Regions from separate parts of the Homo sapiens genome. Here regions 2 and 3 are each linked to region 1. Evidence: fine-mapped expression QTL. A gene starts in region 1. Each other region holds a variant in brackets. All regions are shown on one strand. Distances are between the middles of the regions.

What was found. PIP is the estimated chance that this variant, and not a neighbour inherited with it, causes the effect.
Region 2: its variant is the best candidate, but not a certain one, in a credible set for the expression of IKBKB in blood mononuclear cells (TOPMed, PIP 0.50).
Region 3: its variant is the best candidate, but not a certain one, in a credible set for the expression of IKBKB in whole blood (TOPMed, PIP 0.78).

Annotation. Positions count from the first base shown.
Region 1 is chr8:42,269,724-42,272,528 of GRCh38, reverse strand. It overlaps IKBKB (inhibitor of nuclear factor kappa B kinase subunit beta), which reads right to left and starts at 1,227. Exons shown (of 22, transcript NM_001556.3): 1 at 1,060-1,227; 2 at 324-446. The coding sequence starts at 428. IKBKB-DT (IKBKB divergent transcript) reads left to right here and starts at 1,279. Exons shown (of 4, transcript NR_185843.2): 1 at 1,279-1,878. RefSeq lists a silencer at 947-1,236 and an enhancer at 1,733-2,232.
Region 2 is chr8:42,400,207-42,403,011 of GRCh38, reverse strand. It overlaps VDAC3 (voltage dependent anion channel 3), which reads right to left. Exons shown (of 10, transcript NM_005662.7): 7 at 997-1,224. Among named protein-coding and RNA genes, the nearest start is that of VDAC3, 9.7 kb to the right of the region's middle. RefSeq lists a silencer at 1,612-1,831. The variant T/C (reference allele first, on the strand shown) is at 1,333.
Region 3 is chr8:42,319,211-42,321,885 of GRCh38, reverse strand. IKBKB (inhibitor of nuclear factor kappa B kinase subunit beta) reads right to left here. Exons shown (of 22, transcript NM_001556.3): 14 at 2,465-2,616; 15 at 2,240-2,301; 16 at 1,042-1,151. Among named protein-coding and RNA genes, the nearest start is that of POLB, 18 kb to the left of the region's middle. The variant G/A (reference allele first, on the strand shown) is at 1,303.

The DNA.
Region 1 (2,805 bases):
TCCTATTTCTATATGTTTTATAACATATAATATCAGTATATATTAGTACATGATATTCTACTGTTACCATATATATATAATAGAGACTAAGAGCTTAACTTTATTTTACTATTTATTTAGGTGACATAGTCAATAAAGCATGGAGACCACTAACCTGGAGTCAGCTCAGAAGTCCTGAAGCCCTCTTCCCAGTCCCCCTATTCACTGTCCCAAGATGACCAAAGCCAAAGGTGAGCCCTTGGCCCAGCAGGATCAGAGAAAGTGGAGGCAGTGAGGAGGGGGCCTGGCTCCCCGCCCCTCCCCAAGCTGCACAGAGGGCCTACCTGATTGTGCCATCGGATGACATTTCCAAATCCCCCTGTCCCAAGGCGCTCTTTCATTTCCCAGGCCCCACATGTCTGCGTTGTCAGGGAAGGTGACCAGCTCATACTGATGTCGTGCTAACTCTATAAGCAATTTGGGATGGGGAAAAAAGGTTAGGATTAAGAAAAAAATGGAGCTCAAAGGGATGGAGAAGGCAAGAGATACCACTGCTCTTGAATGGGAGAGAAGAAAAATACAACTGGTTTTTTATTTTGTAAAGAAACCAATGTGTTTGGTTGGTCCAAACTTTGTGGCAAACTTTTGTCCCTCTCACCCTCCCCCATCCGGTTGCTGTGGCATCAGGCAAGGAAGAAAGTCACCGAGGGAGGCGATGCCCACGCCCTTGCCCTAGCGAGGGGATCCCCAGCTGACTCCACCAGGGGCGCCCGGGCCTGCCCGCCTTCTGCCCGAGGTGGCAGGGGCAGAACCTACTTCTGAGCATCGCCGAGGTCACGTGTTTCTTTACAATGTTCCCATAAATCGCAGGTTCCCCTCAAAGCCACCCACCCCCAAGAAGCCACCCCAGGGAGAGCTGTTTCTCCCGGCTTCCCGAACTCCAACCCGCACAAGTGAAACGCTCCCCAGTCCGCAAGCTGCGACTTCCCAGCGGCACAGAGGGGTCTTCCGGGCCTTGCAGGCAGCGGGGCGGCGGGGCCTGCAGGTGGCACCCGGGCCGCACCCACGAGGGGGACTCACCTGTCGGCAGGGACGCGGGGCAGGGGGCGGGCTCCCCGGGGCGGGGAAGGCGGGGCTGGGGCGGCCAAACCCGGGGCTATGACACCCCCCTGAAAACATTAAAATGCGGGAATCTTAACGCGGGCAGCGCGGCGCGACTTCCTCAAACACTTCCTGCTCTGACGTCACGGAGCACGTTGGCCGCGGCCGCTCTTAAAGAGGCCGCTCCCGGCGCGAGGCAGACCAGGTCCGGATGCTGCGAGTGCTGCGCCTGTCCCGGGACCCTCGACCGGGCGACTCCCCCGGGGCGGGGGTGGCGTGTGGTCTCTAGACAACTGAGGGAAAGTAGACAGACCGTGCTCACCGATTTAAAAGAACAGCCCTGAAATGACCCCCGTTACACCCTGTTCTCTTTAGACAAGTTACTTCCACCTGGAGCGGTTTCTGGGCCCGGGTATGGGGATTTCTTCACCCGGCCCCCTAGGCTTTCACCTCGGTGGAATTTCCCGCGCCCCCGCTGGGATGATTTAGGGACTGTTGGCTAGAACTGCCCTTGCCTACCGCCCTACTGCGGGCGCTCCCCTGTCTGGGGGGTGCTTGGCTGGGTGTGGAGAAGGATCAATCACAGCTGACTCCTCAGAGGTGACAGCCCCTGCCCCCTTAAAAACAAGAAAAGACCTAGCAGTGTGAAGCCAAACTGCACCCCCAGCCCCGGTGACATGAGGAAACCGTGAGGCGCTCAGCCTGAGGTTCATCGTTCATCTCCTTCCTGCTTGGAATCAGAATGTCCTCACTGCTGAGTTTCTCCGTTTTATGGGATTACATTAGTGGACAAAGGAGGTGTGTGTGTGTGTTGCTATATTTTATTCAAGCAGAAAAAAACTACCAAAGGAACCTGAAGATGATAATAATAGCTCACATCTATAGAGTGCTTACACAGTGCAGGGCTCTGTTCTAAATCTCTGTACTTAGATTTCCTTATTCAATCCTCAGGGCAACCCTGTAAATTGGAAAATACTGCATCATCATCATCATTATTATTATTATCTCGCTCTGTCACCCAGGCTGGAGTGCAGTGGTGTGATCACAGCTCAGTGCAACCTCCAACTCCTGGGCTCAAGTGATTCTCCTGACTACAGGTGCGCGGCCGCCATACCTGGTGGCGGGGTCTCACTCACTGTGTTGCCCAGGCTGGTCTCCAACTCCTGGGCTCAAGGGATCCACCCGCCTGGGCTTCCCAAAGTGTTGAGATTACAGGCTGTGAGCCACTGCACCTGGTCTGCATTATTATTATTTCCAAGGTACATGGCTGCTACGTAGATGAGCTGATACTCAAACCCTAGCAACTGGTTCCCGGGTTCTTAATCCGTGGCTAAAAGTAGCATGTTAAGAAGTTCAGAAGGAGGCAAACTGGATTTTGAATCCAGATACTGCTGTTGACTACCTCTGAGGCACGGGGGCTGGTTACTTAAACACTGTGAGAACCTATTTCCTCTTTTAAAATTTAGGCAATATTAGGTTGAATTGCATTTAATTGTCATTTTTTGGAAATTGAAAACAGCCAAAACATCAGTAACAAAGATCAGCAGTTTCATCTGCTTCATTGTAATAGCAGGGGGACAGGCGGGCTCATAGAAAGTCATAGAAAGGAGGCCACCCCAGAGTTGTTGTGAGGGACAAATGAGGTATTGATAGCAGCAGTGCCTGACAGCCCTGGGGTTGAAGTTAACTCAGGGACAGATCTCAACCCAAACATAGGGGTCAATG
Region 2 (2,805 bases), 130 kb before region 1:
ATAGGTCTCTGAGAAGTTCATAGAACTTAGAAACTTCAAAGTAGAGTTCAATAAAGATTCTGCAAAAAAATAAAAAGGTAGAGGTATAGGAATAAAACCAATTCTGGATTTCCTTTAAAACACAATCCTACAGTTAGAAAGCACCCTCCTACGATACCTAGGGTGCACTGCTCCAGAAAACCACCTTAGTTATTGCTTCCAAGCATGCCAGAGGTGAGTCCTTGGGTTTTCACATGGTTTTCCTGATAATACTGTTTCATCAATTTCAGTAACTGTCTATACCACTGCTTGCCTTTGTTTTAGCCATCATAAGTAAATTAGAGCATCTAGCAGAGAGGAATCTGCAACAGTTTAAAAACACATAGTTTGCCCTTTGCTTTTTCTTCCTGGTATAGTAGCAGTGTCCAGTAGGCTCAACATAAAATACTACGTAAAAGTTCTGATTCATCCCACCAACATGGTGCAGCCTACATAACTGAATCCCAGGACTCTTTCAGAGCACCTGTTACTTCTGAATGCATTAGCGGTACCTGGGTTCCAACCGAGAATACCAGTACCTGAAACCTCCACAGAATTACCGGGATGTCCCAGGATGCTCAGATCAATTTGGTGGTGGTTGTTGGTGACCAAAACAGACCTGCTTCCAGATACTGTCAAGATGAGAGGGCAGCAGAGGAAGCAGTAACATCTCCAAAGGGTCATCTTACCATGAGGTAAGCCATGCTCTGGGCTCCCTCTATCCCAGTGGTTCTTCTACAGAGGCTGGAGCTTCCTCAAGTTTGGGGTGCAGGCTGAGGGGCCAGTGACCACCAGCAGCACAGCCTGCACACCACGTGCACCAGCCTCCTGGCAAGGTTTTGCTATGAGGATAGCACCGCAAGGATGGATATTCACCAAGGCATGCTAAATCTGAGTACCATCACTTCTCAGCATGCTAATGGCTACAATATTTTGGGCAACTGCACTGATACTAAGGAATAAATTATAAACACTCACACATGTGTGTGCAGCTGGAAGTCCGCAGCCTTGTAACCCAGGGCGAAATTATTCTGTGACAGTTTGGATTTGGCTGTGTCAAAACTCATCTGATAGCCAGCAAGCCACCCTTCGAAGGCCAACACAGCCCAGCCATAGATGGTTGGTCCAGAAAAATCTATATCAACATTACTGCCAACACTAAAACAATCCCGTTTATAGGAGGCCTTCAATTTCCCACTCTTCTTTCTGCAATAAACAAACAAACAAAAGCAAATGATGAAAACAACATGAGTTCTTACTACTGTCTAGGAATTTTTAGAGTAAGATCCTCTCTCTCATCTCCCAATGTAAATA[T/C]TATTTTGGTACATGCCACATATATAGTAAAAACATTTCAAATGACCTAGTTCTACAAATATAATTTTGTTAGGATTAGACATGTATAGACTACTATCATCTATTACTCATTATAAGTTCAAATGATAGGATACTTCATGATTTATTTCATAAAAGCATGAACAAAAGTATAAGAATGAATAAGAGGCTGGGTGTGGTGGCTCACACCTGTAATCCCAGCACTTTGGGAGGCCAAGGTGGGCGGATGACGAGGCCAGGAGATTGAGACCATCCTGGCCAACATGGTGAAACCCCGTTTCTACTAAAAATACAAAAATTAGCTGGGCGTGGTGGCACACGCCTGTAGTCCCAGCTACTTGGGAGGCTGAGGCAGGAGAATCACTTGAACCTGGGAGGCAGAGGTTGCAGTGAGCCAAGATCATGCCACTGTACTCCAGCCTGGCGACAGAGCGAGACTCGTCTCAAAAGAAAAAAAAAGAATGAATAAGATATTTCAGTGCCAAATTAATAATCTGAAGGTGTATGTATACAGACGTACAAGAAGCCAAATCTCTTTAAATGTTTCCAAATGCCAAATGCCACAAAGAATTAATCCCCAATATACATTATTAACCTATCATGGAGAGAAGCATGCTTTTTTGAAGGACAATACTGAAAAAATGAAATTAGTTCTTAATAACCCTATTCCAATCAAGCCTCTTGTAGGAATATTTGTCCTGGCCGGGCACAGTGGCTCATGCCTGTAAGCCCAGCATTTTGGGAGGCCGAGCCAGGCGGAACACGAGGTCAAGACAGAGACCATCCTGCCCAACGTGGTAAAACTCCGTCTCTACTAAAAATACAAAAATTAGCTGGGCGTGGTGGTGCATGCCTGTAGTCCCAGCTATTTGGGAGGCTGAGGCAGGAGAATTGCTTGAACCCAGGAGGCAGAGTTTGCAGTGAGCTGAGATAGTGCCACTATACTCCAGCAAGACTCCATCTCAAAAAAAAAAAAAAAAAAAAAAAAGAAAAGAATATTTGTCCTAAAGATAACTGAAGTGTGTGGCAAAAAGAACACACCTGTTGTTACGGCTGAGACAAATGTCACTTTGCATTCATCTAGCAACCTCCGTCCTTCAGATAGCATGGACCCACATTAGGCAGATAGGAAATGACACAATCCCCCTTTTTTTCACGAGGAAATTGAGGTCAAGAAGTTGGGGGATTTACAGAGGCTAAGAAATCAAGTAGGCAGCAGAACTAATCATTATAGCATCTGAGAGCCAGATCACCTTCTTAAGAAATTAACTTTTCAGCACCATAAGAGAGGGTGAGGGGGAAAAAAAAGGAATTAACTTTTTTTTTTTTTTTTGAGACAGAGTCTCGCTCTGTTGCCCAGGCTGGAGTGCATCTCGGCTCACTGCAAGCTCCGCCTCCTGGGTTCATGCCATTCTCCTGCCTCAGCCTCCTGAGTAGCTGGGACTACAGGCGCCC
Region 3 (2,675 bases), 49 kb before region 1:
CAAAGAAGTTCTGTCTAGACTTGAGGTCAAATATGGCTAATTTTTACATTTTTTTGGTAGAGGTAGAGTTTCACCATGTTGCCCAGGCTGGTCTCGAACTTCTGGGCTCACAAGCAATCTTCTTGCCTTGGCATCCCAAGGTGCTGGGATTACAGATGTGATCCACTGTGCCCAGCCAAAAACATTTTTTTTTTAAATTAGCTGAGCATGGTGGCATGCGCCTGTAGTCCCGGTTACTTGGGAGGCTGAGATGGGAGGACTGCATAAGCCTGGGAGGTCGAGGCTGCAGTGAGCTATGATTGTGCCACTGCACTCCAGCATTGGCAACAGGGCAAGACCCTGTCTCTTAAAAAAATAATACAAATACAAATAAAAGAACTAGAGGAGAATAAAGGGTTAATTAGAGAAAATACAGAATCAAAGTTCTGACATTTGGAGCTCCTGTCCTAAGAATCCTAGTGAGAGAATCAGGGAACACTGCTGAGCTCACGGTGACACAGCCCTCAAGCGGCCTGCCTGGTTCCCTCCATCTGTACGCCAGGAGCACATGTGATCTCCTTCAGGTAGGAGTGATCTGCCTAGACCCCTCCGCCCCTCATGGAGCCAATGCCAAATACCTGACAAAGACTCAAACGAATAGTTTCCAGGTCCAAACTCCTAAGCCTCATCAGGTTCTTCCTTCTCTGTTTTACTTTCTGCTCTGAGCTATGCCTGAGTCAGGGTGGGTGGAACAAATCAGGGGAGTCTGCTACAGGGGTAGAGGCTGCTTGCATTTTACAGCCTTTACAGATTATGGCCTGCGTCTCAAATGCATTATCTGAATTCATCCTTACAACTTCGTGACTTAAGACTGTTTTTCTTGTCACTGAACAGATTTGGAAACTGAAGCTCAGTGATGATTTGCTGGAAGTGACCCCACAGGGAAGCATGCTCTAGAGAATGGTCCCGCACAGCCACTGAGGGTGCCCTTGACACACACACCGAAGCTCCAGGGCTGTCTGTGTGTGCTGGGCACAGAGGGGCCCCCCAGCCAGTACTCACAGGTCGTCCAGCGTTCCCCCCTGCTTCCGGCCCATGGGGCTCCTCTGTAAGTCCACAATGTCGGTCTGCAGAGCCATCATCCGTTCTACCAGGAGTTTCACTTCGTTCTCCTAATGGAAAAGCTGTGCTAATGTCAACTGATGTGGTAGGCGCATGCTGAGATGCAAGATCTGCGGGGGAGCGAGACCAGGGGACCCGCCACATTCCCTGAGGACCCTCAATGGACTGGCTCAAAGGAATGTGGACTGTGGGGTCTGAATG[G/A]CTGCGCCTGCATCTAGGGTCCACCGCTTTCTAGCTGTGTGACCCCTTGGCAAGTTACTTACCCCCAGCTACAGTTTCCTTTTGCATAAAATAGGCTTCTAACAGGGCCATCTGAGGAGTCAAGTAAGATGAAGTACTTAAAGCCTCTGGCATGGTGCCTGGCATACAGAAGATGCCCAAGACACATTACTTTCTCTTCTCTTCATCTGTCTATCCTGATGCTACCCGGGCAGGGAGGCCCAGACTGTTTTATTTCACAGATTATGAGTCCCAAGATGGGGAGGAGCACTCAGCCCTTCTATGGTTAATATTCACCATTAAACACACATATACTCCATCAGTACTGATTCATAAAAATCGATACTAAGACACAGGTGAAGATCCTTGCCCAAGTACACAGGGGAAAACAGAGGATAAGTCCAGGAAAAAGCCCCGGAGCCTGACTTCAACCTTCAGTTTGTGTGAGGTTCATTAAGTCACATGTATTTCCTTTGCCTTCATAATTAACTTTTTTTGGTGACATCTGATTTACGCTGCCCTGAGACTTTCTGCCTAGACCTTTTATTTCCTATGGATTTAGCATCCCAACAAAATTAGTCAAAAACCTTCGACAAGAGGGAGTGTTGATCATCCATCCAATGCCCTTCCTAACAGGAAATGGTCTTGGCTTTTCCCCAAGGGAACCTAACCCTTGCTTCTTATTTAAACCTGGACCATCTCTGTCCATTCATGCAGCTCTTGCATCTGGCCACAGAGGGGCTCCCTTCACTGGCTACTCTCTTGGCCTCTTTTCAGCTGGTCCAGTTAAGCTCAAAGCATGGTGAGGAACACCTGATTTTTGACAGAGATCGACCCAGTGTTTGATGAGAAAGTGAAAAGTGGGAGCACAAAATCTCACCCCCTTGGTAAGTTCCGAAACCCAAAATGAGTCTCCTACCCGCCCACAGAGCTCCACAGCCTGCTCCATTTCCCTCCAGGCCAGCAGCAGTTTATCTGATGCTGAAAAAAAATTGAGAAGGAAAAACAAAACAAAACAAAATAAAAACACCACAAAACTGAAACAGAAATAAGCAACTCAATTATAATAGGACAAAAGAAACCTTAGAAAGAGAAAAAGAAAAAAAAATGGTGTCTTTAAACTCATTGCAAAGTGCACACTCACTGATCCCAAACTCGGTTTGCTCGCTGTACTTCTCCAGGTCAATCTGGATGCTGGTTTTGAAGAAATCCAACTTGGCCTTGAGCTGCTGAGACATGGAAGCCATGGAATTCTTCATTTTGGAGAGGCAGCTGTTGTTTCGGAGGAGATTCATCCTGCAGGGACCACAAGGAACAGTCTTGGAGCATCTCTGGGATCCAAATTCCATTTCCTG